Regions from separate parts of the Homo sapiens genome. Here regions 1, 2, 3, 4 and 6 are each reported to be linked to region 5. The links are microRNA targets in miRTarBase. Many come from high-throughput screens and were not tested one by one. Region 5 holds a microRNA gene; each other region holds the end of a gene's coding sequence.

Region 1 (5,085 bases), not on the chromosome of region 5:
ACCTCGTGATCCGCCCGCCTTGGCCTCCCAAAGTGCTGGGATTACAGGCGTGAGCCACCGCACGCGGCCCCCTTCGTGCCTTTTGAGGAAGCAGCAGCCTTGGTCATGGCCCATAAGAACTCAGACTTCAACTGAAAAAAGTGGCTCTTCCCTACACAACAGTCCAGGAAGCTGGATATTGGGAGTGTGGTGAGACGAGAACTGACCCATCCATAAGCTATTCTGGATTCTCTGTCACTCTCAGCCGTGGAGCATCAAGCAGGCTTCCTGAAGCTTCGGGAGGACCTGGCTTCAGCTGCTGTCTCAGCTGCTCGAATGTAACATGGTTCCGTAGTTGAGACTTCAGTCATCCTGAGCAATAAACCAGCTCATCCACTAACTTGGCTCCTAGCTTATTACATGTGTGCACTCCCTGCACTGATGAAAACAGGAAACATGGCGGGCGCAGGGGCTCACGCCTGGCATCCCAGCACTTTCGAGGCTGAAGCAGGAGGATAGCTTGAGGCCGGGAGTTCAAGACTAGCCTAGGCAACGTGGCAAAACCCCATCTAAAAAAAAAAAAAGAAAACAGAGGAAACACAATCATGGAATTTTTAAGGTGGCAACATGTTTTCTTAAAAACAGGTGAGCCTGTCAGCTCTGCTCCTGAGGGAGAGGTAGCTTGGTCAAGAGGGCAGCCCCAGGCCCTGCAGTACAGCTGGTGATTTTCAGCCCAGAGCCCTGGAACCTTGGATGGGGAGTGTGTGTGAGGGCTGTGCGTGGTAGAATGGCAAAAGTGGGGCTAAGTGTGGCCCAGCGTGGCTGGTGCGGACATCTGGGGTTGCTGTCAACCCCGGGGCAAGCAGCGGAAGGTCCCAGGTGAACGGCAGGTCCCCAGAGGTCTGTTTCTCCTCTGGACCTTAATGACCAGGCTCCCAGCCAGGAGCCAGCGGCTGGGGCGAGGGGAGAGTGATTTCAACGCTCTCTGCCCCGAAGCAGGAACCGAAGGGCCAGCCGGTGGGCACCCAGCGTGAGCTCCAGGCACATCTGGACACCTATGCTTTGCCCAGAGTTGCTTTTCTCAGAGGCTGCAGTCACAGGGAAAAGTTGTGACGGTCTTTCCTGCTATTTCCCGTTCGTCCTCTTTCGCCTCCGTTTTTGTTCCCATGTCTTCCTGTACTCCGGGTTCTTTCTTCTGAGGTGGTCTGGGACAATCTGGATGGGTCTCCGGCTTTAACACCCCGGAGCACAGACAGCTTGCAAAATGCTCTCTGGTGGAGGGAGACTTCACTCCATCCTCTTTTCCTCCCTTTTCAACGATTTAAATCCAGGAAAAAATCGCAGCCCCGCCCTTCAGCACTGGGGTGGTTTTGGAGGTGTCGCCTGCCACCTCCTGGCAGACGCCACTGTGACAGCTACGCCACCACACAAAGGCGCGGGAGCGTGGCCAACATCCTGACAATGTTTGTCTCTCGGCCAAGCAGTGTTTTCCTTGTCAAATGTGGCTCGTTTTTTATTCCTGTTTACTGGGGAAATGGTGACAGAACAAATGTCAGACTCAAAACTGAGAATTCAAGGTAGTGATTTTCCAGAATCACTCAGCAAATAACAACCATCTGTTCCCCTGTATTCACTGAAGAAAGGACAATTTGCCTCCCTCCTGCACCCTCCCTCGTCCCTACTAAATTATACCCATGAATATATAAAGTGAACTGAAGGCACCGTGGCATATAAGCCACGGACTCTAAAGCAAAGGGATGTAAATTTCTTTTCCCTCTCACACCCAGGATAAAATGGGCTTAGAATTACTTGTCAGTGTTGGCCGGGCACTGTGGCTCACGCCTGTAATCCCAGCACTTTGGGAGGCCGAGGCGGGTGGATCACGAGGTCAGGAGATCAAGACCATCCTGGCTAACATGGTGAAACCCCGTCTCTACTAAAAATACAAAAAATTAGCCGGGCGCAGTGGCTCACGCCTGTAATCCCAGCACTTTGGGAGGCCAAGGCGGCGGATCACAAGGTCAGGAGATCGAGACCGTCCTGGCTAACACGGTGAAATCCTTTCTTCACTAAAAAAACACACAAAATTAGCCAGGCTTGGTGGCAGGTGCTACTCGGGAGGCTGAGGCAGGAGAATGGCGGGAACCCGGGAGGCAGAGCTTGCAGTGAGCCGAGATCGCGCCACTGCACTCCAGCCTGGGCGACAGAGTGAGATTCCGTCTCAAAAAAAAAAAAAAAAATTACTTTCCAGTGTTTACATTGCTTTTTCTAAACAAGGACAAGGTAATACATGGTTTATTCTTTCACTGTTATTTTGTAACGAGTCAGTGGGAGTATAACCCGGGGAACAAATCCCACGAGATTGGTTTTAGGCTGGAAAGATGTGAGCTTCCTTTTCGTGACTCCTGCTGCTTGAGCACTGTCCTGAGGTGTCTGGGGAGACTGGAGTGGGATGGATTTGCATTCTCCAGGCCGCCTTTCCGCCTGTCCTCTCTGCACCAGCCTTTGGGAGCAGTGTTGGGGGGACACTTGCATTGCCCATTCATGTGGAGCTCTGGGCAGGCCCAGACCACAGTGGGGCTCCAGAGCAGATGTTCAAATATTCAGATGTCAGCCTGGGAGGACACTGTCCCTGCAAACACCCCTCCCCCAGGGGAGAGCAATCCCAACCTGCCCCTTGGCACGTGAATCATGCTTGGTCATTTGGTTTTACTAGGAAGAGGGAGTTTGACTAGGAAGTTGGGGGAGTAGAAGAGAAAGAAGGTTTCTCCTGGGCACACCAGCAACACACTTGACCTCCCTGGAGTGAGCAGTGTCCAAACCATTACGGGAGCCGCTGGGCAGAGGGGTGTGGGGAAACGCTTCCTGTGTTGTCTTCAACTCCAACTCTGTGTGGCTGCAAAAGCAGTGCTTTTTTTTTTTTTTTTGAGACGGAGTCTCGCTCTGTCGCCCAGGCTGGCGTGCAGTGGCGCGATCTCGGCTCACTGCAAGCTCCGCCTCCCGGGTTCACGCCATTCTCCTGCCTCAGCCTCCCGAGTAGCACCTGCCACCACGCCTGGCTAATTTTGTGTATTTTTTTAGTGAAGACAGGATTTCACCGTGTTAGCCAGGACGGTCTCGATCTCCTGACCTTGTGATCCGCCGCCTTGGCCTCCCAAAGTGCTGGGATTACAGGCGTGAGCCACTGCGCCCGGCCTCCCGAGGTGCTGGGATTACAGGCGTGAGCCACTGCGCCCGGCCTCCCGAGGTGCTGGGATTACAGGCGTGAGCCACCGCACCTGGCCAGCAGTGCTTAAGAGTCCCATATTCCACCCACCCACCCCATCCCCACAGTTCCTTATAGATACATTGATGACCATCAGCACTTGCCCTGACACCCTGGCTACATCCTGGTTTGGCCGCTAGTAGGTAAAGATCCAGCTTGCCCTGGGCCCTGGAGGGGCTGAGAGAACAGAAGGGTCCTGCCGCTGTATTGTGGGCGTTCATTCTCAGAACCTTGGCCTCTAAACATTGGGGGATGAGACGTAAGTAGGACTAACACAGGGAACCAGGAAACAGTGACACTTTCCTGACACATGCAGGGTGAGGCTGCCGATTTTGAAATTCAGTTTTCCGCATAGACTTCCGTCTCTGCAAAGTCCTCAAAAAGGTATCTGCAGAGGTGCCAAGAAGGTCTGACATGGCCTGTTGAATTAAGCCGTTTCTATGGATACATAAACAGTGGCTCAGTGAAGCCCTGAACAATCTCAAAGACAGACCATCTGAGCCCAGAGCAGAGCTGCTGGATGCCATGAGCGTAGCCCTCAGCTTCCTGGTGTTCCCTTAGCCACGTCCTCGTTACCAGGCCAAACGTGACAGGTACTGTGACACACCAACGACACAAAACAACTTACTAACGTAATCTGCTGCTCATAGTTTATTTTCCACCAACCAGTGATCAGCTGTGAGTGATGTGGCTGTGACCTATAGCTGGTGCTTGGCGATTACAAACACCCACCAGCTGGTGGAGCAGGCGCCTCCCTGCCAGGATGATGCTTCAGGAACTTTCTGGGCACAAAGTGCTTCTTGGTGGACAATTTTTAAAAACACACAGAGCCACGTGGGTCACCTATTGTCACCAAGAGAAAAAAGAACCTCAAAATCAGTGACGCGACAGGAAGAATTCGGACCTGTTCTTTCTGAGGAAGTTCTTATTTTTCCTGTAACTGTATGACGGCATCACACCTTCCTCCTGAACGTGGGGGCCATAGTCACTGACTCCGCCAGCCTCCCACCAGTGTGCTGGTGTAGGAGGAGCTGCAGACGTCCTCAAGCAGAAGTCACTTCTGCGTCCTCAGTGGTAACTCCTGTCCCTGCTCAAGTCCTCCGCCCTCCCCCGCAGCTGTCTTTTCCCTTCGAAAAGCAGGATGCTTGCCGCCATGGCCGAGTTGAGGCTGTCCACACCAGGCACAACGGGGATCAGCAGCCTCTTGCCACCAGTGCTCTCGGCCAGCTGCAGGGACTCCAGGCTCACGCCGTAGGTCTCCCCGCCAATCACCACAGCTGCCGGCGCCTCTGTCCAGTCCGAGTCGTAACTCTGAACCTCAACATGAGGCAGCCAATCTTGACTGGCTCCGGTTTCTACATCTTCCTCTTCCTCATACTTGTGAAACTTCATCACTCGTTGATCACACACCCAGCCATGGTCACTAGCTTTATTAGACATCTCAGCCTGGGCATAAAGGCCACAGTTGTCAGCCACATAGACCCGAGTGTCAGGGGGCAGGTAATTGGGCACGGTTTCCCATTCCAGATTATTGATAATGGGCATCCGGAAATGTGCGCCCATACCCGCCCGGAGCACTTTGGGCTCCCAGGCATCCACACAGCCTGGAAAATAAAAAGGAAACAATCAAGATGTTACAAATCTTCCCAGACCAGGGGACTGTGGAGTAAGTCTGATCAATTTTGGATCAGGAGATAAACCAGTTCTTCTATGATAGCTTTCTTGAGGGATGGGACCTTCTGCCTCTCTCTGACAGCATCCAGCACAGCGACTATAGGAGTCACTCCTGCTAGTGCTGAAGATATTTTATGCATCCCTTCAACATCTCCCATTCACACGTG
Region 2 (5,079 bases), not on the chromosome of region 5:
GCGGCCGGGCCGAGGGCCGGGAGCCGGGAGAGCTGCCCTCGGGGGCGGACGCGTGGGCTTCGCCGTCTGGGGGCCGCGGGCTCAACCCTTGCCTCCCACCCTCCGCGCGGCCAGGTGCCAGAGGACGAGCTGGTGTCCACGCTGAAGCAGCTGGTCTCCGAGAAGCTGAACGTCCCAGTGCGCCAGCAGCGGCTGCTGTTCAAGGGCAAGGCCCTGGCAGGTACCCAGGGAGAGGAGACGCCCGGGGAGCCCCGCAGGAAGCGGGACCGGGGTGCGCGGGCCGAGGCCAGCAGCCGTGTGTCGGGTCGGGGTGCGGGCGCCAAGCGCCACATGACCCCAAGGGAGGCGGCCGCATGCCTCACAGCCGGATGCCGCAGCGCTCCGCTCCCGCCGCCCGAGGCGGCCTCGCGCCCCGGGCCACCCCCACGGCGGTGGAGGAGGAGGAACCCATCGATCTGTCTTTGGCAGATGGGAAACGACTCTCGGATTATAGCATCGGGCCCAACTCCAAGCTCAACCTAGTGGTCAAACCCCTGGAGAAGGTGCTACTAGAAGAAGGCGAGGCCCAGAGGCTGGCCGACTCCCCACCCCCGCAGGTCTGGCAGCTGATCTCCAAAGTCTTGGCCCGCCACTTCAGTGCGGCAGATGCCAGCAGGGTCCTGGAACAGCTACAGAGGGTGAGAAGGGTAACCCTGGGCATCCTCTTCAGGCCCAGTTGCTCCCAGCCCCTACCTCTGTTGCAGTGTATGCCCCCCCACCACTGGCAGCCCCTGAATCTTCCTGCCCTTCTCTCCCCAGGATTACGAGAGGTCCCTGAGTCGCCTGACGCTGGACGACATCGAACGGTTGGCCAGCCGCTTCCTGCACCCTGAAGTGACTGAGACAATGGAGAAGGGCTTCTCCAAATAGAATTCTCGGAGCATGGGGAGGTGCCCAACGCCAGGCTACCGCTGCATGTCGCACTAAGTGTGTTCTCCTGTTGCAGTTGGGCTCATCATCATCATAGCTGGCATGTACCTGGCTCTGGCCAGGTGCTAGGCACTCCTCACAGCTTGACCTGGGTTTGCTTCCACACCCTCAGAAGAGGAGAGCCGGCACAGCAGAGGCACCGGCGATGAAGTGGCACAGCCCCAGTCGGAATCCAGCGGCTTCTGAAAGTGCCTTGGTGTGAGAAGGAGGAAGGGGCCGCTTGGAGAGCTGGGCTCTCGCATGTCATGTTTAGCCCACTGAGAATATACCCTCAGGTGACTCCCTCCCGATCCTGAAAGGGAAAGCAGCTGTCACCTGACTTCTGGCGGGTCCAACATAGCCCTCAGCTTACCTCTGCAGGAGGCCAAGTGACAGCCAGCCCTGGAACCCCCCGACCCCCGCAGCTGCTGCAGCCAGTGTGCCAGTGTGCGTTCGACAAATGGAAAAGCAGATTGGGGCCAGGGAGTCAGCAAGGCACCCCAGCTCTGTGATGTGACTTTGGGCGAGTCTCAGTGCCACTTGGTCCCCAGCCATGGACTCTATACAGTGAGGGCCACTCACCGACCTGAGTCAGTGTCCTCTGTCTCACAGGGCCCCTCTCCCTTCTGTTCAGTAAACAAACTGAAGCCAAAAATGAAGCCGTGGCCAAGTGTGACCCAGAGATGGGGTGTCCTGGCCCTTAGTGACACAGCTCCTCTCTGGGGCACCCTATCTGCTTGTCTCGTCCAGGAAGCGTTAGGGCTGATGGGTGACTCAGCAAGGCAGTGTCAGAGCTGGGACTGGGCGTAGGCCTTTGTCCTCATCCCCAGCACTGGCCTCCCTGTGGAAGATGAACATATCCCAGCCACCTGTGTACAGGGGCTCACTTTGTGTGCTCCTTGTTGCCTGAGAAGAAACCTTGGGGTGCCAGGGTGGGGGCAGAAGCATGGACTGGGTTCCGGTTCATCCTCCTCCACCCTGCCGTGTGTGTGGGCACAAGAGGACATCTAACCACCTGCTCCTTGGAGGAGGCCCCCAGGGGTGGTAGAGGCTGGAAGGAAGCCACATCAGGAGGACGCCACTCCGGCCCTTCACCCTTGCCAAGTGAGCTGCTCACAGTGTGGTCAGGGCTGCGCGTGCTGGAGGCCCTCCTGCCTGGGCCTTGTGGGGCAAATATTGGGTCCCCAGGCTGGAAAGATGGACAGAGGCCCAATGGGTGAAGGCTTTGAAGAGCACACAGAAGCCCCTGGCCCCCCACGAGAGCTGGAGAGCCATGTATATGGCTTCAAAGCCACCTACGGCAGGGACACACTCGTGAGCATGTGTGGCCTGCAGTTCAGGTGATACATTTACCAGTGTTCTTGTTTGTGTGGTGCCAGGAAATTGATTTTGGAAAAAGTGAAATAACATTAAAGGTGAATGTGAGGCTTCTACTTTTATCCAAAAGGAGCTATATTAGCTAGGCTGTTTCTGATATCCAATCATTGGTTTAACAATAAAGGCAATTTGTTTAATCAGTTAACGGAAATTTCTTGGCTTATGAAAGTGAAAAGTCCAGTGGTATTGGCATTGGCAGCAGGTGAGCAATTTCACCCAGTGTCTTCTGCCTCCCTCTGCGTTGGTATCTGCTACATCCCAGGCCACCACCTCCGAGGATGAAAAGATGGCTGCCTGCAGCTTCCACGGAATCCCTCCCTCACTGCCAGAGCAGCATCTTCTCTGTGTACCACCTCTGCTGTCTCAGATGCCCCCAGCAAATAAACACTCTTCTCGTTGGTCAGAACTGGATTGTGCGTCCAATCATTTTGGCTGGGGTAGGGGGTAATTCTCCGTCAGGGCTGGCTCCCTGGAGCTAGGCATGGGGCCACTTCCCTGGACACACATGGGCTATGCAAGGGACAGAAGGCTCTGGGGGAGGGCTGGATGAATGGATATCCTCAATGGTGGCCGCAAATGGCAGCTGTCCACTACAGGGGCCATGCATGTGTCAGATCAGGGCCACCTCGCAGGTAGTGGAGGAGAGGGCTGGAGGCGTCAAGATCACACAGGGAAAGCGTTTTCTGAGGCTTGGGTTAGGGAAAGCACCAGAGAGAGGAAACACTGCAGGGATGGGAGACAGGAAGTGGGGGGATCGTTAGAGGACACTGGGGATTCTGCATGAAGATGGAGCAGCCACAGGCTGCAGCCCCCCCAATGCTGAGATCCTTTAACAGGGGTCAGAATGTTTACTGCAGGTGCTGCGCCCCTCTGAGCCAATTGTCCGCCCTGAGAGGTAGCACCGAGTCATCCACTGCCCCCTGCCCGGTGAAGGGCCCTGAGACCCACCACCTGCCCCTCAGGGAGGGGCCTCGGGACAGTATCTGAGTCCTGCGGCCATGGTGTGACTACAATGACATCAGGAGATAGCAGCATGAGTGAAGGGCCCAGCTGGGATGAGGTGCTTTTGGTGTCGTTTCCCAAGGGCCCACGGGAGGAAGAGCGGCCTCAGAGGACAGCAGCATTTGCCTTGGGGTGGGGAGGTTCCCTGGCAATGGATCAGCTGGTGTCCCATGTGAGCCTCACCAGCTCCAATAGATCTGCCCGGGCCTGGTACTCCCAGGAGTAGATGCAGCAGAGGTGGCCAGCCTTGAGCCTCCCAGCCCTGAAAAGCCTTCAGGAGAGATGAGAGACACACAGCAACTGCCCTGTCCTCCTCCAGGGCCCAGCTGGAGCGGCCTGCATACACCTTCAGGGCCCCACTGAATGGCCGGCAGTCCTCATTCCTCACCCTCTTCTGCCTTTGCTCTCCCGCTGTTTCCACCACTTGCTCCTACTCAGGCTCTCTTGCTGGTTCTTCACACACACCCCACCCCTCAATGTTGGTGCCCCAGGGCTCTGTCCCTGAGCCCCTTCTCTTCCCTCTGTATCACTCCTCGGGGAGCTCATCCAGCTTGCTTTCTATTTCTGTGCCTCACTGCCATGTCTATGTCTCATCCCGGCCCTCTCTCCTGAGCTCCAGCCCATGTCTTCCAGACAGCGCCTGACTTTGCTGCAGACGACACCCTGCTCATCACTGAGTGCCCCCTTGTGTCCCAGGTGCTGGCAACCCTGAGACTGGAAGACACAGTCCCTTCCCTCTTGGCACTCACGTCCAGCACTGGCCGGCTCCTCAGCACACACGTGTTCTCCACGGCCCGGCTGGAGGACTGGCAATGCCACTCAGCCAGGCTTCTGAGGGAGCAGGAGGCCATCTTTGCCTCTCCCAACTAGCCATTCTCCATAGGCAATCAGGCAAGAATATTTTTGGAAGCATCCAGGGCAGCTGCTACTGTATCCTTTCCTCCTCTGACCACACTCACCCCCAGCCCCTCATCAGGCAGCTGGCAGGGTCAGGCTGCCCCACTGTTGAGGACGCTCAGTTTGATCACGTGATCCAGGTGGCTGCTGCCAGATCTCTCCCCTGTAAAGACGCAGTTTCCCTTCCTGATTCACAAGTAATTTGGGGTAATATTTGGGGACTTTGTGAATATCCTGTCCCCAACAACCTTTCAGCTAATGCTTTTGCCATCCAGCGACAATTCCTTGCCTGAATCGATTTTTTTTTTTTTTTGTGAGACGGAGCCTCACTCTGTCACCCAGGCTGGAGTGCAATGGCGTGGTCTCGGCTCACTGCAATCTCTGCCTCCTGGGTTCAAGAGATTCTCCCGCCTCAGCCTCCTGAGTAGCTGAGACTACAGATGCATGCCACCACAGCCGGCTAATTTTTTTTGTACTTTTAGTAGAGATGGGATTTCACTGTGTTGGCCAGGCTGGTCTCAAACTCCTGACCTCGCAATCCACTCGCCTCGGCCTCCCAAAGTGCTGGAATTACAGGCGTGAGCCACTACACCTGGCCATCCTGAATCAATTATTAAGTTAATAACAATTAATTATTACATTGGTGGTTGCAAAGATGGTAATTTTCTGATAGTTTTTTCTACAGCTATTACTTGCCATTTCCCTATAAAAACCTTTCCTTTATCTCTGCTTTCTTTCCTGAATATCATGGACTTTTTTGTTTGTTTGTTTGATTGAGACAGAGTCTCAGTCTGTTACTTGTGCAGAGTGCAGTGGCTAGATCATAGCTCACTGTAGCCTTGACTTCCTGGGCTC
Region 3 (5,085 bases), not on the chromosome of region 5:
GGGTGATGGCAGCCTCACCGTGCTGAATGCCTTCTCCCAGGCACCATCCACCATGCAGGTGTCACACAGCCAGGTCCAGGAGCCAGGTGAGTAGAGGAGCAGGGCTAAGGAAAGGAGGACCGTTTCCTTCTTTATACACACACACACACACACATACACACACATATGCACTGATGCCTACAAATATTTCTACCCAAATACAACACAGACTTGGATGCTCACACACACATTTGGACACCCCACTTGGACACTCACACCCGCATGCACCCTCAGACACACTGGCACCCTTTCCCTTGGGCTCTTACATCTGAGACTGCCCCAGTCACTTGTGCATTTGACACCACTCCTCCAATATCTGGAAGTTTCAACAAACAATTTGAGTATCTCCTGTGGTTTTCCAATGTAGGTGGCGTCCCCCAGGTGTTCCTGACAGCATCATCTGGGACAGTGCAGATCCCTGTTTCAGCAGTTCAGCTCCACCAGGTAGGTAGGGATATCTTTCACCCCATCCCAGATAGCCACTTCTTTGTCTTGACCTTAGGGGATCCTGTTACCAGTTCATCAAAGCCAAAATCCCTAGCCTGGAAGCCCATCTGCTTTTCTGCTCAGGCCTGTGGTTGGCAGGCAGGGAAGCCAGGGGAGCCTGAACTGGCTGGCCAGTCCCTGCCCCTCCTCATACATCCCCTTCCCTCCAGATGGCTGTGATAGGGCAGCAGGCCGGGAGCAGCAGCAACCTCACCGAGCTACAGGTGGTGAACCTGGACACCGCCCACAGCACCAAGAGTGAATGATCCGCCCGCCGCCCTGGACAGATGGCCCAAGGGATGGCACCACTTATTTATTGTTGCCTTTTCACGTTTTCTTTACACACACGTTGACGGGCCGCAGGAGGGAGGCGGGGAGGAGGAACGGGCAGCCACAGGACTGAGCCCTCTCACTCCAGCCAAAGAAATGGGCCTGCCTGCCTCCACCCGTCCTCCCTCAGCCTCCCCTTCTTCCCGCCCCACCTCCCATTTCTGTTGCTGGAGGGGCTGTCCTCCTTCCTGGGACCCCCTCGCCAGCTTGGCTCGATGTTTGCCATGAGTATTAGCTTACCCAATGGGACCGTGCCCCACCTCCCCACACACAGGCCTTCTGTGGGGCTGGGCACCGTGTCCTCCTCTGAGGAAGCAGTTGGGGCCCTCTTGCCAGCCTCCTTGCTGACCCCAGGTCAGCCCTGTGTCTGTCACAGGCTGGGTCAAAAGAGCCCTGGCTCTGCCCCTCAGGGGGCCAGCTGGGGAGATGGGGGCTTCTTCCTCACACTGCTGTCCTCTCCCCCTTCAGCTCCTGAGTAGCTGGGCCTGTGCACTGGGCAGGTTCCTGGGGCCGCCTGCCCTGCCTTGCCGCTCCCCTTGGACCTCCAGGGGCTCCTGGGTTGGAGGGAACCACCAGCGTTCCCTTCTCCCCCTTGTCTTCCCCCCTCTCCTCCCAGCTGCTTTACTTAAAGTTGATTTTGAACTTTTTATTTGAGGAGACGAAGTGAAAACAAATCTATAAATATATATTTTTAAAATATTTAACTTTTTTTTATGGCGTTTTTCTCGTCCCCCTCCCTGCCCAAACTCCCCTTCCCTGGGGAGCCCTCAGGCTCCCCAGAACTGGCTGGGCCCCTGGGGACAGAGCCACCCCATGAGCTCGGGGTCCACCAGTGTGTGGGGGAGATTCTGGGTTTGCCCAGTCCTGGGTTGTTTCCAGGAGAAAGCCGGGGGAGGGGCCCTCAGGCCATTCCCCAACGGGGTGGGGAGGGTGACCCACAGCTCTGGGCCTCTTTTTGCCCTTTAGGGCTGTTGCTAGGGAGAGGGAAGAGGGAGACCAAATGTCGGGGTTGGGGTGGGAGGGCGTCAGGCAGAGGCAACTGACTTCATTTGTGCCACACGCATGGGCATTGCAGCCTTGCGCTGTCCCAGGCATGCAGCTGCCTGGGGCCCAAGTTGCAGTGAGCAGGGTGGGGTCTGGGAGGGGGTGAGAGGCAGGAATGGGGGTCAGAAGAAGTGGGAGCAGCTTCTTGGGCTGAGTGCAGCCAAAGGGGAGCCAGAAATGGGCAGTTCTCCCAGGGAGTGAGCAGCTACTGTAACTTTTTTAAATTAAGACAAAAAGCCTTGAAGAAAATGACTTTATTTTTCTAAGTGTAACCTCAGTATTTATGTAATTTGTACAGGGGCCATGCCCCACCCCCCTCCTCCCCCTTTGGGGTAGACCTTGAGGGTGGGCCAGCATAGGGGGGAGGGTCTTTTACCCTGTGTCAGAGCCTACCTTCACCACCTATATCCAGAAGGGGAGCTTTTTCAGAAACAGGGCAGCAGTGGGGTGAAATTTTCTTAACCCCTAAGACTGCCTTCAGTAGGAACAAGCTGGCTTCTGTGATTAGGTGAAGGGATGGGGGAAGATTTTATGCACAGCCTAGTTATCAAGGGGATGATTTGCCGACATGTTTGAGAACCCCCTAACCTCTAACCCTCATTGCTGTCTTGCCCCAGTTTGGGGTGCCAAGATGGAAGTCACCTTTCTGGGCTTTCTCCTGGAGATAGCTGGGGCTTATGGGTGGCTTTCAAGGCTGGGGCATGGCAAATCAGGGGCCAGAGAGCAGGGGAGCTTGGGACTCAGGTCTGTAACTGCCCAGCCCCTTTTCTCTGCTCTTGTTTCACTCCACCATCACTCACTCACTCCCCACTCCCCCACCCATGGGGAGGAGACCTTTGATGAATTCTTCCTCTCCTTCCCACAAAAGACAGACCCAGTGAGTGAATCAGGCAAAGTGCTTATAATGTGTGTTGTGTGAGCGTGGCCTTGGGAGGACATGCGTGTGTCAGGGATGAGTTGAGGTGATATTTTTATGTGCAGCGACCCTTGGTGTTTCCCTTCCTCGGTGGCTCTGGGGTATGTGTGTGTGGGTGTGTGCGCCTGAGTGAGTGTGTGTGCTTGAATGTGAGTGTGTATGTCAGTGGTTTCTACTTCCCCTGGGATGCTGACCCAGGAATAGTGGACATGGTCACAGTCCTATGTACAGAGCTTTCTTTTGTATTAAAAAAAAATACTCTTTCAATAAATGTATCATTTTTGTGCACAGACTGTGGGGTCTTTGGTTCTGTTTTTCTACTTAGGGAGGGATGGGGGTATGAACGCGAGGCAAACTCCTAAAATTGCTGCTCTGAGTAGCGATCCGGGCTGCTTGATGAGAACGGTAATGCTAAGGTGTGCTTTGGGCTGTTTAATTCTATACGATTTAATTTAAGGAAAGTTTTGCGGGGCCGAGGACCTTCTCCCTGTGCGTGGCTTCGCTAGGTGTTAAGGCCAACGCAGAGGAGCAAATTTTAATTAACAGGAAAAGTGACACAACTAATCCAAAGCATTGCTGAAGGGTTTGGGAAACTCATGGGCACCTGACCTACTGAAAAGTCAAAAAGGGCAGCCTTAAGGTGGGAATGTGGGTTACCATGTTTCGTCAGCATGATCGCTGTGATGGGAGAGGGAGGATTAGGAGGGCCGACCCAGTGAAGAGGAGGGGGCTTCACAGTTGACTGGATGGAAACGGCTTCTTCCTGCTGCTGAGAGAGGAGCAACGTGACCTCGATCCCAGGCTCCTCCGGTAGCGCGCCCCCACGCCCCTCTTCCAGTGCAGCCGCCCGCGGTAGCACGCATGCTCCACTCGCGCGCTGTTCCGCCACGCTCGGCGTGGGCCGCGGTGGGACCCGTAGGTGCCCGGCCGTGCGTGCACTCGCCGTGTGACCCGGAAGGGAGCTCTGAGGAGGCGGGGCCAGGACGGCGGGACCGGCCGCTGGGTCCCAGCGAGGGCTGAGCCGGGCGGTGGGAGGTGAGAGGAGAGTTCTGCGCCGACCCAATCCCTCCCCTTCTCCTGTCCCCTCCCCGGTCCTTTAGCCACTGTCCATGGGGCTGACGAAGGGAACCAGGTCTTGCTCTCTGAGATTCACTGGATCTTTTCAGCTTTTTTGGACCGCGCCCCCAACCATCCTTCCCCCTCCCCCCAAACCCGTTCCCTCTGCGGTGCTGGCCTCCTCCACCTCCCCACGGCTCTGCAAGCTTGGGCTTGACCTTGCTATCTGCTGGTCTCATCCATGCGTCCAGAGCTCACCCCCACACCTCAGTTTATTGTTGCTCTTCTAGGCCGACGTTACACCTCCTACCTCCTCCTATCCGATTCTTTTACTTCCCCCTGCTGCTAATCAGTTGCCCGCTGGCACATCGCTGGCTACCATCCAGGCTTGCCCCCCATCCTAAGTGGACCCCTACCTCCATTGAGGTCCACATCCATCTTTCTCCCTCCTCTTCACCTCTACTCTCATCTTCTGTCCCTGTACCCCAACATGACCCCTGCCCTGACCACTATATCTTCATCTGGGTTTACCTTCTTCCATTCTTATTCTCACTATTCCCTGTTGCCCCTGCACTGCTTCATATCACGCATATCTTTCCTGATTATTCCACTCCCATTTATAATCGGTCTTAATAACTTTGCATTTATTTGATGACTCCCCTACCTTCTCCATCTAAGAATAATAACAGATTATGTTTACTGAACACTCTTTATGTGCTAGATGCTGTTCCAAGTGCTTTACATACATGATCCTACTAAATTCATGAAGTAACTATGAATATTACTACCATCTTGCAGAAGAGGAAACAAGCTCAGAGGTTAAGTAACTTGTTCCAAACTATGCAGACAGTGAGACAGAAAGCCAGAATTCAGAGTCACATTTATCTGATACTGAAGTCTCTGAATATTGCTTCTCTCCTGACCTCATTTCCTACCTTTAACCCCATGATTACCACCTCTATCTTATCTACTTAACTTACTTAAATCCTTACCATACATGCAGTATAAGGGCAGGGTGGGACCTGGTCATCTTTCCCATAATTTTATCTGGTCCCTAGGGCCCTCCCCCTTTCACAAGACTCGAATATACTTTTCCTATCCAGTCATTTGCCCCAACATCCCAGCCTTTTGTCATCTCCATTCTCTATATCTGCCATGGCCCACCCTTTACATCCACCTTGCAGCTTTACTCTGTCATTTATGCTCCCTGTCCT
Region 4 (5,000 bases), not on the chromosome of region 5:
GGGACCCCAGTCACCTCGGTACCCAAGCTCCTGACTCTTACCTCAGTCCCAACCCCTTGACAGGCACCAGGATCATCTACGACCGAAAGTTCCTGCTGGAGTGCAAGAACTCACCCATTGCCCGGACACCCCCCTGCTGCCTCCCTCAGATTCCCGGGGTCACAACTCCTCCAACAGCCCCTCTCTCCAAGCTGGAGGAGCTGAAGGAGCAGGAGACAGAGGAAGAGATACCCGGTAAGGAAAGCAGGAATTAAGAATTGTCCCAGCCTTTGAGTTCAAATGCCACTGTGACACAGTGCGGGGGTTCAGTTCCAAGAGGGGTTTCTGCACTGATGCTGAGCCTGCAGATCCTCAGACCAGCAACCTGTCTTCCTGCCTTTTCTCTCTCCAGATGACGCACAATTTGAAATGGACATCTAATCCAGTGCAGATGACCTGGCATGTGGAGTTACAGAGGGATCCCTCATGCCACTGCTGCCACCACCTCTTCCTGGGGCATCCAAAGGCCAGCTGGCCTCATCTAATCTGGAAGGGAGTGACTTGTTAGTTCCAGGCCTCCTTTAGTTCTGAGGCAGCTAGACCAGGGATAGGAGTGGGCAACTTGCCAAGCCCTTAACTCTACTTCCTCTTCAGTCTGTGGTACTCCTCCTAACCCTAAACCCTCTATGCTCAGGGGCTGGAACTGGGGAATGGAGTAAGTCACCTTCTGACTGCTTAGTAAACATTCAAAGAAATGCCTTGGCTCCAGTGTTCTCCTCAATGCTGATTTTCTCATCTCAGCCACACAGCTGAAGGCCCTGGCAGGCCTGGTTAAGCTCAGAGGCCTCAGATCATTCCCAGCTCCCACCAGGCCCACTTCCAGCAGCAATTAGAACCTGAGGCACGCTACAGTGGCAGGTTACATGAGCCTCCAAACCATAAACAGCAATAGCTTGGCCACTGCCAAGGGCTGTTCCTGTCTTCCCAGGAAGCAGCCTTCCTGGAACCAGGGCCCCCCAGCAGCCCCTCCCCTATCCATTCCAAAGCAGGACTCTTGGAAAAGAGGTGCTGTCCCAGCCTATAGCCATCCTGTCTCTCCCTGTGCCTTTTCTGCTTCCCACCTCTAAGCACCAGTTCCTCTATTCCAACACCAAAAACCTTGTACCCTTCTCACAGCATGATAGTCCACCAAGTACCTCTCTCAAAGGGTTACAAGAGACCTTAGAGTTCACACTGAAACCCAAAATGAGGCAGCAGTTTGTTTGGCAAGTCAGAGTTACAATCCCCAATCTCAGTAATCTGGTCTTTTTCTCCTTCGATTTACACAGAAAACCCCACTCAATGTGGTTCTAATCTCTGTAACAGTAGTATCTCAAGGGTGATACAGTGCAAATAGGACTGTCTTTCCTTTTGTTGAGGGAAAAGTCTCCCCGTTCTATTTGAGTCTGTTCTCATGCTGAAATGAAACCATCCAAACACAGCTGCTCCGCCCAGCACAGGATGTGCTTTCAGTCTACTTTGGGAAAAAGTGGTAGGCAGTAGTCTGACTTTACCCAGCAGATCCCTTCCTGATGAATGGAGAAGGGAGAACAGAGGTTTGCAGATACACAGGGAGCAGGGCAGTCGAGGACACCAGAGGGGACTAGCTTGGCACCGGAAGGGTTCATCTCTCCTACCCAAGGCCCACCGCAGAGATGTTTTTATTGAAATGCATGTTATGAGTAACACATGAACTCCCTCTGGCCCAGGTGGGACTTCTTCCCTCATAGGTGGGTCAGGCCCAGTGGGACAGTCTTGGTGGTGGTAAGAAGGGAGCCAAGTGACAGAAGGTCTCCAAGGCATAGGAGATGGTGTCCGGTGAGTCTGGGGAACCGAGGATTATGAAGCCTGCTGGAAGCCTGGTATGGTATGGTTCTTCTCAGCTGTGGCTGCAGATTTCTCTTCATTGGCTGCCTCCTCTGAAAACAGACTCCTCTTTTCTGCAATTAATCTTTTAACTCCTACCATCCACTGACTGACCTCAGTCACATGGTCAACCATGAGGGAGCGGTGGATGTCATCTGCTGCGTCCCACCGGTGGCTTGAAAGCTCTGAAGAGAGACGGGGGTTGAGCAAGCAGCCTGTGGTACAAGAGCTTCCATGCCTCCCCTCCCAGTCAATCAAAATCTCAGCACCTGCTCCAGCATAGCCAACCACAGCAGGAAAGGGATTTAGGCTATACCAAAGAACCCACCCATACCTTGCACCAGTAGAGCCATTCTCTTCTTTACAGGTATTGACAACTTTCCTCCAGCCCACTGTTCCTGCAGCAGTGCCAGGCGTCGGCTGATGTCATCACATACCTGCTTCTAAGAGACAGAAGCCCCCCTCCAATTCAGTGCTGCCAGCCCAATGAGGGGAGGAGAGGGGAAGACAGCACCACATAGGAAGCACCTGCTTTCTCTGGCCCACACTTTAGAATTCTGGTTCTTTACCCAAAGATTAGAGGCCCCACTGAGAAACTGATGAAACCTTCCTTTCCCTGCTGTCTTCTTCTGACACTGCCTGATGTTTCATTGAAAAGTAGAGGTCATTAAACAGGAATTCTCTCATCTTCCCACCACCAGTCTTCCTAACCCACCTCCTACTATGACTAGAATTCTAAAATTTCAGGGGCTTCTCAGACTCTCAGAAGCTCATCCTGTAGCGTTACTTCACAAAAAGAAAACTAAGCGCCAAAGAGGTGAAATGACCATGCTACTTTCCCTTTCTTTTAAGACATTCTTCAGATCTCTTTTTCTAAGAACTAAGAAAACACTATAGCTAGAAGAGGTTTCTTTCTCCCTAACTGGGCACAATATAAATTTCCTGAGAATAAAATCAGCAGCTTCTGCTCTGAATGGCATGGAGATACAGAAAATCAGGTTGTTCACTAATAGGAGCTGAATTCAACTCTTGTTCCCACAGCATCTTCTACTGATTGGTCTTCAAAAGTCTTATTAATGCTCCTGAAATCCTGTGTTCATTTCTTTGGGAAGGCCTTAGCAGATTCTGAAGGAGTCCGTAACTCTCAAAGGATTAAGAACCTGTCCACTGGGTCAGAGGGTCTATCTCTGGGAACCATTCCTGCATTTGGCTGTGGATGGGAGCCCTCTCTAACCTCTGATGTGCCAGAGCTTACCCTTGTGTGGCCACGGCAGTCTTCCAATGCCTGTTCCAAAGGTCTCAGCACATCCTCCATCACAGCCTCAGACTCGACTGGGAAACTTGTGGGCTCCACGCCAGAGGCAGGACCACTCCCCACAGGTGGGGACCTGGGAGCCTTACTTGAAGGAGGTGGAGGCCCCATTGGGGGAGGCCCAGGAGAAGTCTCTGATGCGGGGACTGAAAAGGTACAGCAGGATCAAGCAACATGGCTTAAATGGGTAAGAAGCTTAACTCTAAATTCACCCCTTCTAAGAAGGGCTACTCTCTGAGACAACTTATTCATTCAAAAATATGCATTTATGAAGTCCCCACTCTACGCCAGACAATATGCTAGGCACTAAAGATTAGAAAAGTAAACCAGGTGGCCGGGTGTGATGGCTCACACCTGTAATCCCAGCACTTTGGGAGGCTGAGGCAGACAGATCACCTGAGGTCAGGAGTTCAAGACCAGCCTGGCCAACATGGCAAAACCCTGTCTCTACTAAAAATACAAAAATTAGCTGGGCATGGTGGCACATGCCTGTAATCCCAGCTACTCAGGAGGCTGAGGCAGGAGAATCGCTTGAACCCGGGAGGCAGAGGTTGTGGTGAGCTGAGATGGTGCCATTGCACTCCAGCCTGGGCAACAAGAGTGAAACTCTGTCTCAAAAAAAAAAAAAAAGAAAAGAAAAGTAAACCAGGCCTGGGCACAGTGGCTTATGCCTGTAATACTAACACTTTGAGAGGCCAAGGTAGGAAGATCACCTGAGCTCAGGAGTTCAAAACCAGCCTACGCAATATAGTGAGACCTCATCTCTATAAAAAAATTTTAAAAGTTAGTCAAGTGTGGTGGCACACACCTATAGTCCTGGCTACTCAGGAGGAAGTAAACCAGACAGATTAAGTTCCTGACCTCAGAGAGCTTAATTCTAGAGGCAGGGAAAAAAACACAAAATTACTAAATTATGTTACATGCTACCAAGAAATAAAATGGTTTATGCAATAAAGAGAAATGGGAGAACCTATCTAGACTAAGTGTTCAAGGAAGGCCTTCTGAGGTACATTTAAGTTTATCTGAGCTCACTTGCTATGTGACTTTCAGCAAGTTACTTTCAACTAGAGCTTAGGTTCCTCTTCTGTAAAATGGGGATGAATATAATGCCACTTATTTCACAAGGTTGCAATGAAGATTAGGAATACAGGTACAGGCTGAGTGTGGTGACACATGCCTCTAATCCCAGCACACTGGGAGGCAGAGGCAGGAGGATCGCTTGAGCCCAGGAGTTTGAGAGCAGCCTGAGCAGCATACTAAGACCCTCTTAAAAAAAAAAAAAAAAGACAGCTGCTAGACTAGTATGTAGCAAAAAGTACAAAATGAGCTGTTTTTATTAAATTGAGAACTACCGGATGAGATAGATGCAGCTATGAAGAGTTGAAGGAACATGTACTAGGTCGAGGTTAGAGCAGTGCCCAAGAAGCAGGAAAACTTTTGATTTGTTCAAGAGACAGTAATGAGGCCTGTATGGCTAAAAATTATTACCACTGAAGAAAGTAGTATGAGCTATCATTAGAGAGGTAAGCAGAGGGTCCAGACCCTGTGGGGCTTTGGAAGAGTTTGATCTTGAGTCAATGGTACTGGGAAGCCACTGCAGGTTTGTAAAAGCAAGGGGTGATGTGACCAGACTTATTTTTAAACATGTATGCTCTGTGAAAAACTGATGAAAACAGGTCAACAGTGGTGGCAGGAACACCAGTTGAGAGGTTGAGTAGTTCAGGAAAGAGATAATGCTGGCATGGACTAGGGTAAAAGAGTAGACGAGGGGAATGGAGTAGTCTGAGATTTACTTAGGAGGAAG
Region 5 (5,085 bases):
AGGGTAGTGGAAGATTGGGAGGGGAGATGAAGATGGTTAATGGGTGCAAAAAATAAGAAATAAAAAAGAATGAATAAGATCTACCATTTGATAGCACAATAAGGTGACTATCATCAATAATAACTTAATTGTATATTTTTAAATAACTTAAATAATGTAATTGGATTATTTGTAATTCAAAGTATAAATGCTTGAGGGAATGGATACCCCATTCTCTCATTCTCTATGATGTGCTTATTTCACATAGCATGCCTATATCAAAACATCTCATATACCCCATAAATATATATACCTAATATGTATCCACACAAAATTAAAGAAATAAATTTTGATATTTTCTTTAAATATATTTAATTAACCAATAAAGATCATATATATTCTGATTACTCAGTGTGATAATTTAATATATACAATATTGAGTAATAATTATCAAAACAAATAGGGGCCTGCCTCTTAAAAAGAAAGATATTTTGAACCCAACTTCATAGGTTTGTTGTTCATAGTGCAGTTGGTATAACACTTTTGAAAATATATTAAACAAAGGGTAAGTATATTAATATATTTGAGAATTCTCACTGTGGGAAATGGAGAATACATGTATGTAATGGCATAAGTTTAGATGGATATTAGAAGTAGCAGAATAAACCCATAATTTTTATTTTAGAGCTTTATTGAGATATAATGCATATACTCTTCACCCACTTAGGATGTGCAATACAATGAAGTGTTCTCAGAGTTGTGCCTCCATCATCACAATCAAGTTTAGAACATTTTCATTAGCCCCAAAAGAAACTCCATAACCAATAATGGTTATTCCTTATTTCTCTAACTCCTCCACCGCCAGTTCTCCTCTCCCCAACCTTCCTGGCCTTATACAATCACTTGTCTACATTTTTTCTCTATATGTTTGCATATCTAAACATTTAAACAATTATTATATCTAACTTTAATTGTATATCCTTTGACCAGGATCACCCAATCCCTCTCCTCCTACTTAGCTCAGCCTCTGGTAACCACTACTCAACTCTCTGCTTCTACGAGTTCCACTTTTTAGATTCCACATATGTGAGATCATGTGGTATTTCTGTCCTGGCTTATTTCTCTTAGCATGAAATCATCCAGGTTCATTGATGTTGTCACAAATGGTGGGATTTTGTTCCTGTTTGTGACCGAATACTCTTCCATTATGTAAATATACCACATTTTCTTTAGTGATTCTTCTGCTAATAGACACTTAGGTTGATTTCATGTCTTGGTTATTGTGAATAATGCTGCAATGAATGTGGAAATGCAGGCATCCCTTCTATATACTGATGTAATTTTCCTTGGATTTATATGCAGTACTGAGGGAGTGGATTGTATGGTAGTTCTATTTTTACATTTTCTGAGGAAACTCCATGCTGTTTTCCCTAATAGCACTAATTTATATTCCCACTAACAGTGACAATTTTGGCACATTATTTACAATATTTATCTTCTGCCTTTTTGATAATAGTAATCCTAGTAGAAATTAGGTAATATTTCATTTTGGTTTTGATTTTCCATATCCTAATGATTATGATGTTGAGCATATTTTAATATACAGGTTGGCCATTTGTATGTTTTCATTTGAAACGTATCTATTCAAGTCTTTTAGCCATTTTTAAAAGGGTTATTTGTTTTCTTGCTATTAAGTTCCTTATATATTTTGAATATTAACTCCTTATCAGATGTATATTTTGCAAATTTTTTTCCATTTTGTAGATTGCCTCTTCACTGCTGTACAGAAGCTTTTTTCACTTTAAATAGTATAATTTGTCTAATTTTTACTTTTGAGGTTTTAAATAGAAAATCCTTGACCAGCCCACACGAATGTCGTGGAGCTTTTCCCTAGTAGCTTTCACAGTTTGGGATCTTACATTTAAATATGTAATCCATTTTCAGTTGATTTTTGAATATGGTGAGACATAGAGAGTCTTGTTTATTCTTCTGCATGTGAATATCCAGTTTTCACAGCACCATTTTTTGAGGAGGCTATCTTTTTCTCATTGGGTGTTCTTGCCAGATTTATTGAAAATCAGTTGGCTATAAATGCACATATTTATTTTTGGGCTCTCTGTTCTGTTCCATTGGTCTATGTGTCTGCTTTTATGCTACTACCATAATGTTTTGGTTACTATATCTTTATAGATAATTTTAAAGTCAGGTACTGTTATGATTTCAGCTTTGGCTATTTGGGGTTCTTTTGTGATTTGATACTAATTTTAGGATTTTTTTTTCAATTTATGTGAAGAATGCCATTGGTGTTTTCATGAGCATTGCATTAAATCTGTAGATCACTTTGGGTACACTTTAACAATGTTCATTCTTCTATTTAATGAAAATGAAAAATCTATATATTTATGTTTTCTTCAATTTATTTAATCAATGATTTATAGTTTTCAGTGTAAGATCCTTCACCTCCTTGGTTAAAGTTTTTTCTAGGGTTTTTTTTCTAAATAGCTGTTGTAAATGAAATTGTCTTCTTGAATTCTTTTTTTCAGATAGTTTACTATTAGTATATAGAAATGTAACTGATTTTTTGTGTGTTGATTTTGTATCTTGCAACTTTACTGGATTTATATATTAATTCTAACTGTTTTCTGGTGTAATCCATAGAGTTTTTTATATGTAACATCATGTCATCTGCAAACAGATAATTTACCTTTTTAATTTCTCTTTCAATCCCTTTTATTTCTTTCTTCTGTCTAATTGCTCTGGCTAGGACTTCTAGTACTATGTTGAATAGAAGTGATGAAAGTGGACATCCTTGTCTTGTGCTAGATTTTAGAGGAAAAGCTTTCAACTTTTCTCTGTTCCGTATGGTGTTATTTCTAAGTTTGTCATATATGGGTTTTATTGTGTTGAGGTACATTTCTTCTGTAACTAATTGTTGAGAGTTTCTTTTATTTTCATGAAGGGATGTTAAATTTTGTAAAATGTTTTTCTGTATGTATAAAATGTTTTTCTGTATGTATAAATCATATTTCTAGCCTATTTTATTTATTTCATTCTGATCTTTATTATTTCCTTTCTTCTAGTAATTCGGGATATAATTTGTTCTTGTTTTTTTTTTTGGTTCTCTGAGATGTGAATTTTGTCCTTCATTCTATTAATGTGGTGTATTATGCTTATTGATTTGCATATGTTGAACTATCCTTGCATCCCTGGGATGAATCTTACTTGATCATGGTGAATGAATGTTTTAATTTGCTGTTGAATTGGGTTTGCTAGTATTTGGTTGAATATGCTTGTATTATTCATGTTCAGCAGGAATATTAGCTTGCAGTCTTTACTGTTGTGGCTGTGTTCCTTGTCTGGTTTTGGTATTAGGGTAATTCTGGAATCATAGAATGAGTTTGAAAGTATTTAATCCTCTTAAATTTTTTGGAATAGTTTGAGAAAAAATAGTATTAATTGTTTTTAAAAATATTTGGTATAATTCAGCAATGAAGATAACACTATTAGTTTTTTTGCGTTTTTTTTGTTTGTTTGCTTGTTTGTTTTTTGTATGGGAGTTTTTTAACTACTTATTAAATTTCCCTACTTGTTACTGGTCTGTTCAGATTTTCTGTTTCTTCCTAATTGAATTTTGGTAGGTTACATGTTTCAAGGAATTTATCCATTTTTTTAGGTAATTCATTTGTTGGTGTATAATTTGTTCATGATAGTCTCATAATCATTTCTATTCCTTTGGTATCAATTGTAATGTATTATTTTCTTCTGTTATTTTATTTATTAGAGTTTTCTCTGTTTTTCTTTAGCTAAAAGTTTATTAATTTTGTTTATCTTTTTAAATACTAACTCTTCATTTTGTTGATATTTTGTATCATATTTCTAGCCCATTTTCTTTCTTTCTTTCTGACTCTTACCATTTCCTTTCTTCTATTAATTTGAGGTATAGTTTGTTCTTGTTTTTTCAGTTCTCTGAGATGCAATGCTTGTTTATTCAAGATCTTTTTTTTCTTTTTGGTTGCTGGAATGTATTGCTATGAATTTCCCTCTTAGGACTGTTTTTGCCATATTCCGTAGGTTTTGATATGTTGTATTTACATTTTGTTTCCAAACATTTTTTGAATTTTCCTTTTAATTTCTTCAGTAATATAGTGGTTATTCAGGATTACATCATTTCATTTCTATATATTTGTGAAGTTTCTGAAATTCCCCTCATTATTGATTTCTAGTTTTTTAAACTCCTTTAAATTTAAGACAGAGTGAGACTCCATCTCAAAAAGGAAAAAAAAAAGACAAAAGAAAAAAGCAAAGAGAAGAAAAACTTCAGCCAAATTAAATTTAAAGGAGTTTAATTGAGCAATGAACCATTCGCAAATCAGGCAGAACAAGTTTGTAGACTAAAAAAGGAAGTGACATACAGAAATCAGAAGTGAGGCACAGAAACAGCTAGATGGTTATATGTTGGCATTTGCCTTGTTTGAACACAGTTTGAACACTCAACAGTCTATGATCAGTTGAAGTATGGCTGCTGGCATTGGCTAAGACTCTGCTATTATTACAGGCACATACTCCTAAGTTAGGTTTTCAATCTTGCCTACCTATTAAGTATCCACAAGGACTCAGAGATAAAAGTATGGAGTCTTTCTCAGGCCATACTTCGTTCACTTTAACAGAAAGCATATGTTAACATGTGTGGAATCATTCCTTTAAGTGTTCTTTGGTTAAAACAGGAAAACCATATAACTGCTCATTCTCCTTTTGGTGCCGTTTTTATGCAGGCATTTTGACAACTGCTATCTTTCACATTTTACCTACACCAAAAATCAGTTTCTTTGTTTCCTTAAGAAATTTACTTACTCTCTGTAAATTTGAAAATTTGATCTTTCTTCTTTCTTTTCTTTCTCTCTTTCTTTTCTCTTTCTTTCTTTTTTTCTCTCTCTCTCCTTCCTTCTTTCCTTCCTCCGCTCTTCGTTCCTTTCTTTTCCTTTCTTTATTTCTCTCTATTTCTCTCTTCCCACCCCTCTTTTTCCCCCTCTCTCTGTCTCTCTCTGTAAATTGAGCTTATTTAAAGTTTTTTTTTTTTTAATGTAATCTGTCTTCATAAACCTGAGT
Region 6 (5,085 bases), not on the chromosome of region 5:
GTGTCTGAAACGCACCAGTGGCATAACTTACCTTACTCCAAGAATAAAATGATACACTTTGCATTAATACTACAAACAGCTGGGACTCTCCTCTGAGTGCAGTAACTGAGGATGGTGAAGAGGGCGAAAACTAAGAGTGTTTGGGGTTCAGAGAATCCTCTTTTCAGTGTAAATTCTCATTCCTGCTCATTTCCCTTGTCCCTGGAGGAGGCAGCTGCTGTCTGCCGTCCCCCCAGCTCCCTATGAAGGCCTTTAGCTCCTGGTTGCCTGAAACTACCCCTTCCCTCCCCACCTCACTCCGTCAACACCTCTTTCTCCACCTGTCCCAGGAGGCTATGGGGCCCTACGTCTTCCTTCTATTTGCGGTCCTCCTGCTGGGCTTCTTCATCTTCACCTTCTTAAGAGTACCTGAAACTCGAGGCCGGACGTTTGACCAGATCTCAGCTGCCTTCCACCGGACACCCTCTCTTTTAGAGCAGGAGGTGAAACCCAGCACAGAACTTGAGTATTTAGGGCCAGATGAGAACGACTGAGGGGCCAGGCAGGGGTGGGAGAGCCAGCTCTCTCTACCCGGCCCAGAGACCCCTTCCTTTCCTCTGCAGCACTTTAACCCTCTCTTCCCTATTATTTCCGGGTGGAAAAGAATCCCTGCAGCCTGGTAGAATTGGGAAGCTGGGGGAAGGGTGGTCTGAGCACCCCCTCATTCCCCTCGTGTGACTCTCTTGGATTATTTATGTGTTGTGGTTTGGCCGTGGCCATCAGGGTGGGCCACTCTCCCCTCCCTCTTCCTTCCCCCATCCCCTTTCCTCCCCACCTTCCCCAGACTCAGCTCCAGAATACCTTCTTCGCTGCTAGAGAAGGGGGATTGGAGGGAAGACAGGTCTAGACTTTCTCAGTGGGACAAACCAGAGCAGAGAGCAGGACAGGAGACAAGAAATCCAGTTTCCCACCACCTTGGACTCCTCCCACAATCTGGGACTTTCACTGAATTCTTGCCACGCAGACTCTGGGCAAAGGGGTTTTTTTTTTTTTTTTTTTTTTTTTTTTTGAGACAGTCTCGCTCTGTCGCCCAGGCTCGAGTGCAGTGGCGTGATCTTGCTTCACTGCAAGCTGTCTCCCAGGTTCACGCCATTCTCCTGCCTCAGCCTCCGGAGTAGCTGGGACTACAGGCGCATGCCACCACACCTGGCTAATTTATTTTGTATTTTTAGTATATACGCGGTTTCACCATGTTAGCCAGAATGGTCTCGATCTCCTGACCTCGTGATCTGCCTGCCTCAGCCTCCCAAAGTGCTGGGATTACAGGCGTGAGCCACCGCGCCTGGCGAAGGGAGTTCTCTCTTGACCCCTGCAGGGAAAAGGACTCACCTCCCTCACTGCAGGCTCAGCCTTCCAGGGCAAGAGGGAACAGGAAAGTATGTGCCCATGTGTGGCAAGATGGAAGGACGGCAGGCTCCCGCCTCTAGGCTTGGGGCTCTACCCCGATGGTTTCCCAAGGCTGCCAAGAAGGAGCCCTAACTTTCTTCCTCTCCCTTCCTGGAAGGGTGCTGCATCCACAGGCTTTTGACCAACTAAGGCAAAGAGGGGATTTGAAAGGCTGCCTGGAAACACTGGGCTGGGAGGAGCCTTTGGATATTTTTATATACGTTTGAAAAGGGGATTGAGAGAAGAAACCAAAGGTCGGTTGTACTAAATGTATATATATAGATACTTCTATAAAGTCACTGCTGAAGACAAGCATCCTATTGTGGAGGTACTTGAGGATGGGCTGAGACAGGGACCATAACTCTTCACCCCTCTTCCTCCCTCTGTCCTGCCTCAGCTCAAGGCCTCAGAATCTTCTGGATGCCATTGCTCATGCCCCTACTCACATTTCTACTCGTTGCTTTATTAATAGTAAATGCTCAATAAATTGTAGCTGCCAGTGCCGGGCATTGCTCTTGGCATTTGCAGAATACTCACTCTGTGAGGGAGGTGTCAGCCCATGTCACAGATGGGCAGTGAAACCCATGATAGGGGCACTCTTCACCAGGGACACAGCTGGAGACATGGCAGCAAGGATGCCAGGCCCTGCCCACGGCCCCACATCCCCTCCTCCCCACCTTCAACAGTGAGTTACTAGCGATTCTCCAAAACAGAAGAGATGGAGACCAAGACCACAGGAAAGCCTGTTTTTGTTTTTACTGGAGGCTCAGGTGGCACATGACAGATCATAAAATGGCTTCAGAGGTAGGGGGCCGGGGGAAAACAAAAATAAACTTGGGGTGGGGGCAAGAAAAGCAACCAGGAGGAGGTAAGAGCTGGCTGGTTCCTTCTCAGCCTGAGTTACGGGAGGGAGTTGCTGTCTCTGAACAGTAAGGATGGCTCCCTTCCTTCAACCCTTGATAAGGGGAGGGAAGAAAAAAGAAAAAGCAAAAGGCTGCTGCTTTGGTCCTCCTGAGTCTCAAGGAAAAGGTGAAAAGCTGGTGTTTTGATGTCATGAATTATGGGAAAGGGGGAGCAGGGTACTGGGTAGGGTACAGGTCATTTGGAAAAACTGGCAGATACCTGAGAGAGAAAAGGAAATGGACGGATTGTGAACAACAGCGACTTGTCATCGCCACCCAGTACCTCACCTTCCTGGCCACCCACCCAACTGCACCAGCCACTCACCAGATGGCAGCTCTGGGTGTCCTCTGAGTTGAGTTGGAATCACTCCAGGATGGTGGTGGTGGGGTCCCCACTGTTGACAGGGGCTGAGGTCTAAAGAACAGCGGTGGCCAATTGAGACTTGTTCTTTTTGTTTTTGAGACAGAGTCTCACTCCAGGTTGGATGGAGTACAGTGGCGTGATCTTGGCTCACTGCAAACTCCCCCTCCCAGTTCAAGTGATTCTCCTGCCTTAGCCTCCCAAGTAGCTGGGATTACAGGCATGTGCTACCACGCCTGGCTAATTTTTGTATCTTTAGTAGAGACGGGGTTTCTCCATGTTGGTCAGGCTGGTCTTGAACTCCTGACCCCAACTGATCTGCCTGCTTCTGCCTCCCAAAGTGCTGGGATTACAGGCATGAGACATCGCGCAGGGCTGAGACTTGTTCTTCAGGGCCCTGAACTTCAACCTTCTTTCACTTTTTCCCTTCCCATTAAAACCTCAATCACACCCCTCAGTTCACATCTACAAGCTGGTAGGATGGCTCCAGGCAGCAAGTGGGGGATGGGTTGGGGGGGGCATGGCCATCATGGGCAATCATGGGCTTGATTGCCTCTGTGGGGGCTTCCTGGTGGGAGGCGGCACCTGCCAGGGGGGGACCCAGCAGGCTGCATGGAAGAGGGTGGTGGCAGGGCCAGGGCAGGGGAGGGGAGGAGCCAAAGGATAGAGTAGGAAAGAAAAAGGAGCAGGTGGGGGAGGGAGCTGGTCTCAGCCTTTTCTTTCATCCCACATCTGAGGTCCTCACCTCAGGGGCTGCGGGCTGCCGGGGGCCAGGGGCCTGCTGGGGGCCAGGGGCCTGCTGCCGTCTCCGCTGGAAGTAGGGGCGGTTTCGTGGGCGCTGGGGCTCAGGCCGGGAACCATCAGCGGGACCTTGGCTGGGCTTGGTCTCACCATCCCCACCTTCTGTGGTAGGCTGCTGGCGTGGCCTGGGGCGGAAAGGCCTAAGGCAAGGAACAAGGCTCTGAGGGGACCAGGGAATACTCCCTCCCCAGGGCTCACCCAGCTGCCCCACCCCACCTCCAGGAGCCAGGCTTCCAGCCCATGAGCACTGCCTCCCCGCAAGGCACCTGTCTCGCCAGGAGCCCAGGCTCTGCCTAGAGCTTCACCCTTCCATCCTCCTGTCCCTTGCCCCAAGGATCCAACACTGGAAGGGGAAGACCAAGCCCCAGCAGGGGGGTCTTACCTTCGGTACCTGGGCCGGAATCTGGGCGGGGGGACTCGCTCATCTCCCTGCTGTTGGTGCCCCTCCAATGGGGCTGTCTCTTTGGGTTCTACCCTGTCAGTGCCCTGGGAACATGCAAAGGCCCCGGTGAGCTGTGGGGACAGCAGCTGCTCTGGAGCCAGATTATCCACAGCTCTGCCCAACCCTCAGTTCCTCCTTCTTTGGGGACCCATGGTCTCTATCCTAACTCCCACTCCTCTCCTGAACTTGGGGAACTGGCTCCCATATTCCAGCATCCCCTCACCTCTATAGGCTGCTGCTGGTTGGGAGGCCGGGGGCCTCGCACAAACCGCCGTCGGTAGAAGAAGGGTGGGGGGCACCATCGTCGGGGCCGTTGCCCAGAGTCTTCAGCCCGCTCCCCTTTACTGCCAGGTCCTGTCCCCGCCGAGGGGATCTCTGCCACCATGGGTGGTGGGGCAACTGAGGGAGGCCGGGGGATGAATCGGCGGGACTTACGTCGGTTGGGGGCATAACGGCTGCCCTTCACGGGTACTCCCCCAGGCCCAGTTACATTAGTGGCTTCTGCGCCCTGGGAAGGTGGTAAGGGAATAGTGAGAACCTGCTCCAACAGCCAATGTGCATTTCCCAACTTGCTTCCCCTTCTTTCAGGGGAAGACCCCTCTCCAGCTTTCCTTTAGCTCCTCTAACTTCTTTCTACCCTCCCTGGAGAGGCAGTGGAATGTGCTTGCACCCATTTGGGAAGGAGCAACATGTCCTTTTGAAATAATTGCTACTGCACCCTCCTGAGTATACGACTGGGTGGAGAAAGGCCTGGCAGCCAGCATCCACCTTTTTACTCCAGAGGCGGACTCGGGAAGTCTAGGACAGGGCCCCACGTGGAGAACGGATGTCGAAGTGCTTGGTGAACTAGAGAAGAAACCCAGACACTGCCGACCGATGACAGGGACATACTTAGGACATCCCTTAGCCCTAGCATTAAGGAAGAGGACATCAGGGTGAGAGAACACAGTCCCATTCCCGCAGAACGGGTCAGAGCTGGCCCCAGGAGGGTCTTAGCCTGTGATGACCTCCAGGCCACCCTCCCGTAAGCCTAGTCAACTCTATACCCCATAGCAGTCCCCAAACCTTCTCTCCTTCCACGACATCAAATTCCACAGTCTCCCCATCTCCAACGCTGCGCAGAAACTTCCTGGGGTTGTTTCTTTTAATAGCTG

The links. The annotated mature microRNA hsa-miR-6130 reads UGAGGGAGUGGAUUGUAUG and lies in region 5 at 1,345-1,363, shown strand. An mRNA with a match to its seed (bases 2 to 7 or 8) in the 3' UTR can be bound and repressed. Matches are read on the target gene's strand: a 7mer-m8 pairs with bases 2 to 8, a 7mer-A1 pairs with bases 2 to 7 and ends in A, and an 8mer does both.
Region 1: the mRNA of MRM3 is a reported target of hsa-miR-6130. The part of its 3' UTR that is shown has no 7-base or 8-base seed match.
Region 2: the mRNA of UBL4A is a reported target of hsa-miR-6130. Seed matches in the 3' UTR shown: 7mer-m8 at 1,249-1,255, 7mer-m8 at 2,556-2,562 and 8mer at 2,640-2,647.
Region 3: miRTarBase lists SRF as a target of hsa-miR-6130. Seed matches in the 3' UTR shown: 8mer at 977-984.
Region 4: the mRNA of EIF4EBP3 is a reported target of hsa-miR-6130. Seed matches in the 3' UTR shown: 7mer-A1 at 460-466.
Region 6: the mRNA of SLC2A4 is a reported target of hsa-miR-6130. Seed matches in the 3' UTR shown: 7mer-m8 at 779-785, 8mer at 1,369-1,376 and 7mer-m8 at 1,803-1,809.

Annotation. Positions count from the first base shown.
Region 1 is chr17:791,297-796,381 of GRCh38, reverse strand. It overlaps MRM3 (mitochondrial rRNA methyltransferase 3), which reads right to left. Exons shown (of 4, transcript NM_018146.4): 4 at 3,873-4,848. The coding sequence ends at 4,313. Among named protein-coding and RNA genes, the nearest start is that of MRM3, 11 kb to the right of the region's middle.
Region 2 is chrX:154,481,369-154,486,447 of GRCh38, reverse strand. UBL4A (ubiquitin like 4A) reads left to right here. Exons shown (of 4, transcript NM_014235.5): 2 at 115-220; 3 at 469-677; 4 at 799-2,731. The coding sequence ends at 909. Among named protein-coding and RNA genes, the nearest start is that of UBL4A, 2.7 kb to the left of the region's middle. RefSeq lists enhancers at 1-385, 386-1,144, 4,398-4,457 and a silencer at 300-449.
Region 3 is chr6:43,178,400-43,183,484 of GRCh38, forward strand. SRF (serum response factor) reads left to right here. Exons shown (of 7, transcript NM_003131.4): 5 at 1-86; 6 at 407-483; 7 at 696-3,107. The coding sequence ends at 791. It overlaps CUL9 (cullin 9), which reads left to right and starts at 3,797. Exons shown (of 41, transcript NM_015089.4): 1 at 3,797-3,850. RefSeq lists enhancers at 1-465, 3,468-3,537 and silencers at 3,788-3,927, 3,948-3,997.
Region 4 is chr5:140,548,843-140,553,842 of GRCh38, forward strand. EIF4EBP3 (eukaryotic translation initiation factor 4E binding protein 3) reads left to right here. Exons shown (of 3, transcript NM_003732.3): 2 at 64-234; 3 at 392-734. The coding sequence ends at 420. ANKHD1-EIF4EBP3 (ANKHD1-EIF4EBP3 readthrough) reads left to right here. Exons shown (of 36, transcript NM_020690.6): 35 at 64-234; 36 at 392-734. The coding sequence ends at 395. It overlaps SRA1 (steroid receptor RNA activator 1), which reads right to left. Exons shown (of 5, transcript NM_001035235.4): 3 at 3,140-3,342; 4 at 2,219-2,327; 5 at 1,226-2,069. The coding sequence ends at 1,858. Among named protein-coding and RNA genes, the nearest start is that of EIF4EBP3, 3.7 kb to the left of the region's middle.
Region 5 is chr21:23,078,010-23,083,094 of GRCh38, forward strand. MIR6130 (microRNA 6130) reads left to right here and starts at 1,275; the gene lies at 1,275-1,383.
Region 6 is chr17:7,286,097-7,291,181 of GRCh38, forward strand. It overlaps SLC2A4 (solute carrier family 2 member 4), which reads left to right. Exons shown (of 11, transcript NM_001042.3): 11 at 330-2,161. The coding sequence ends at 533. YBX2 (Y-box binding protein 2) reads right to left here. Exons shown (of 9, transcript NM_015982.4): 4 at 4,997-5,085; 5 at 4,155-4,439; 6 at 3,872-3,975; 7 at 3,434-3,629; 8 at 2,653-2,742; 9 at 2,167-2,547. The coding sequence ends at 2,692. Among named protein-coding and RNA genes, the nearest start is that of YBX2, 6.0 kb to the right of the region's middle.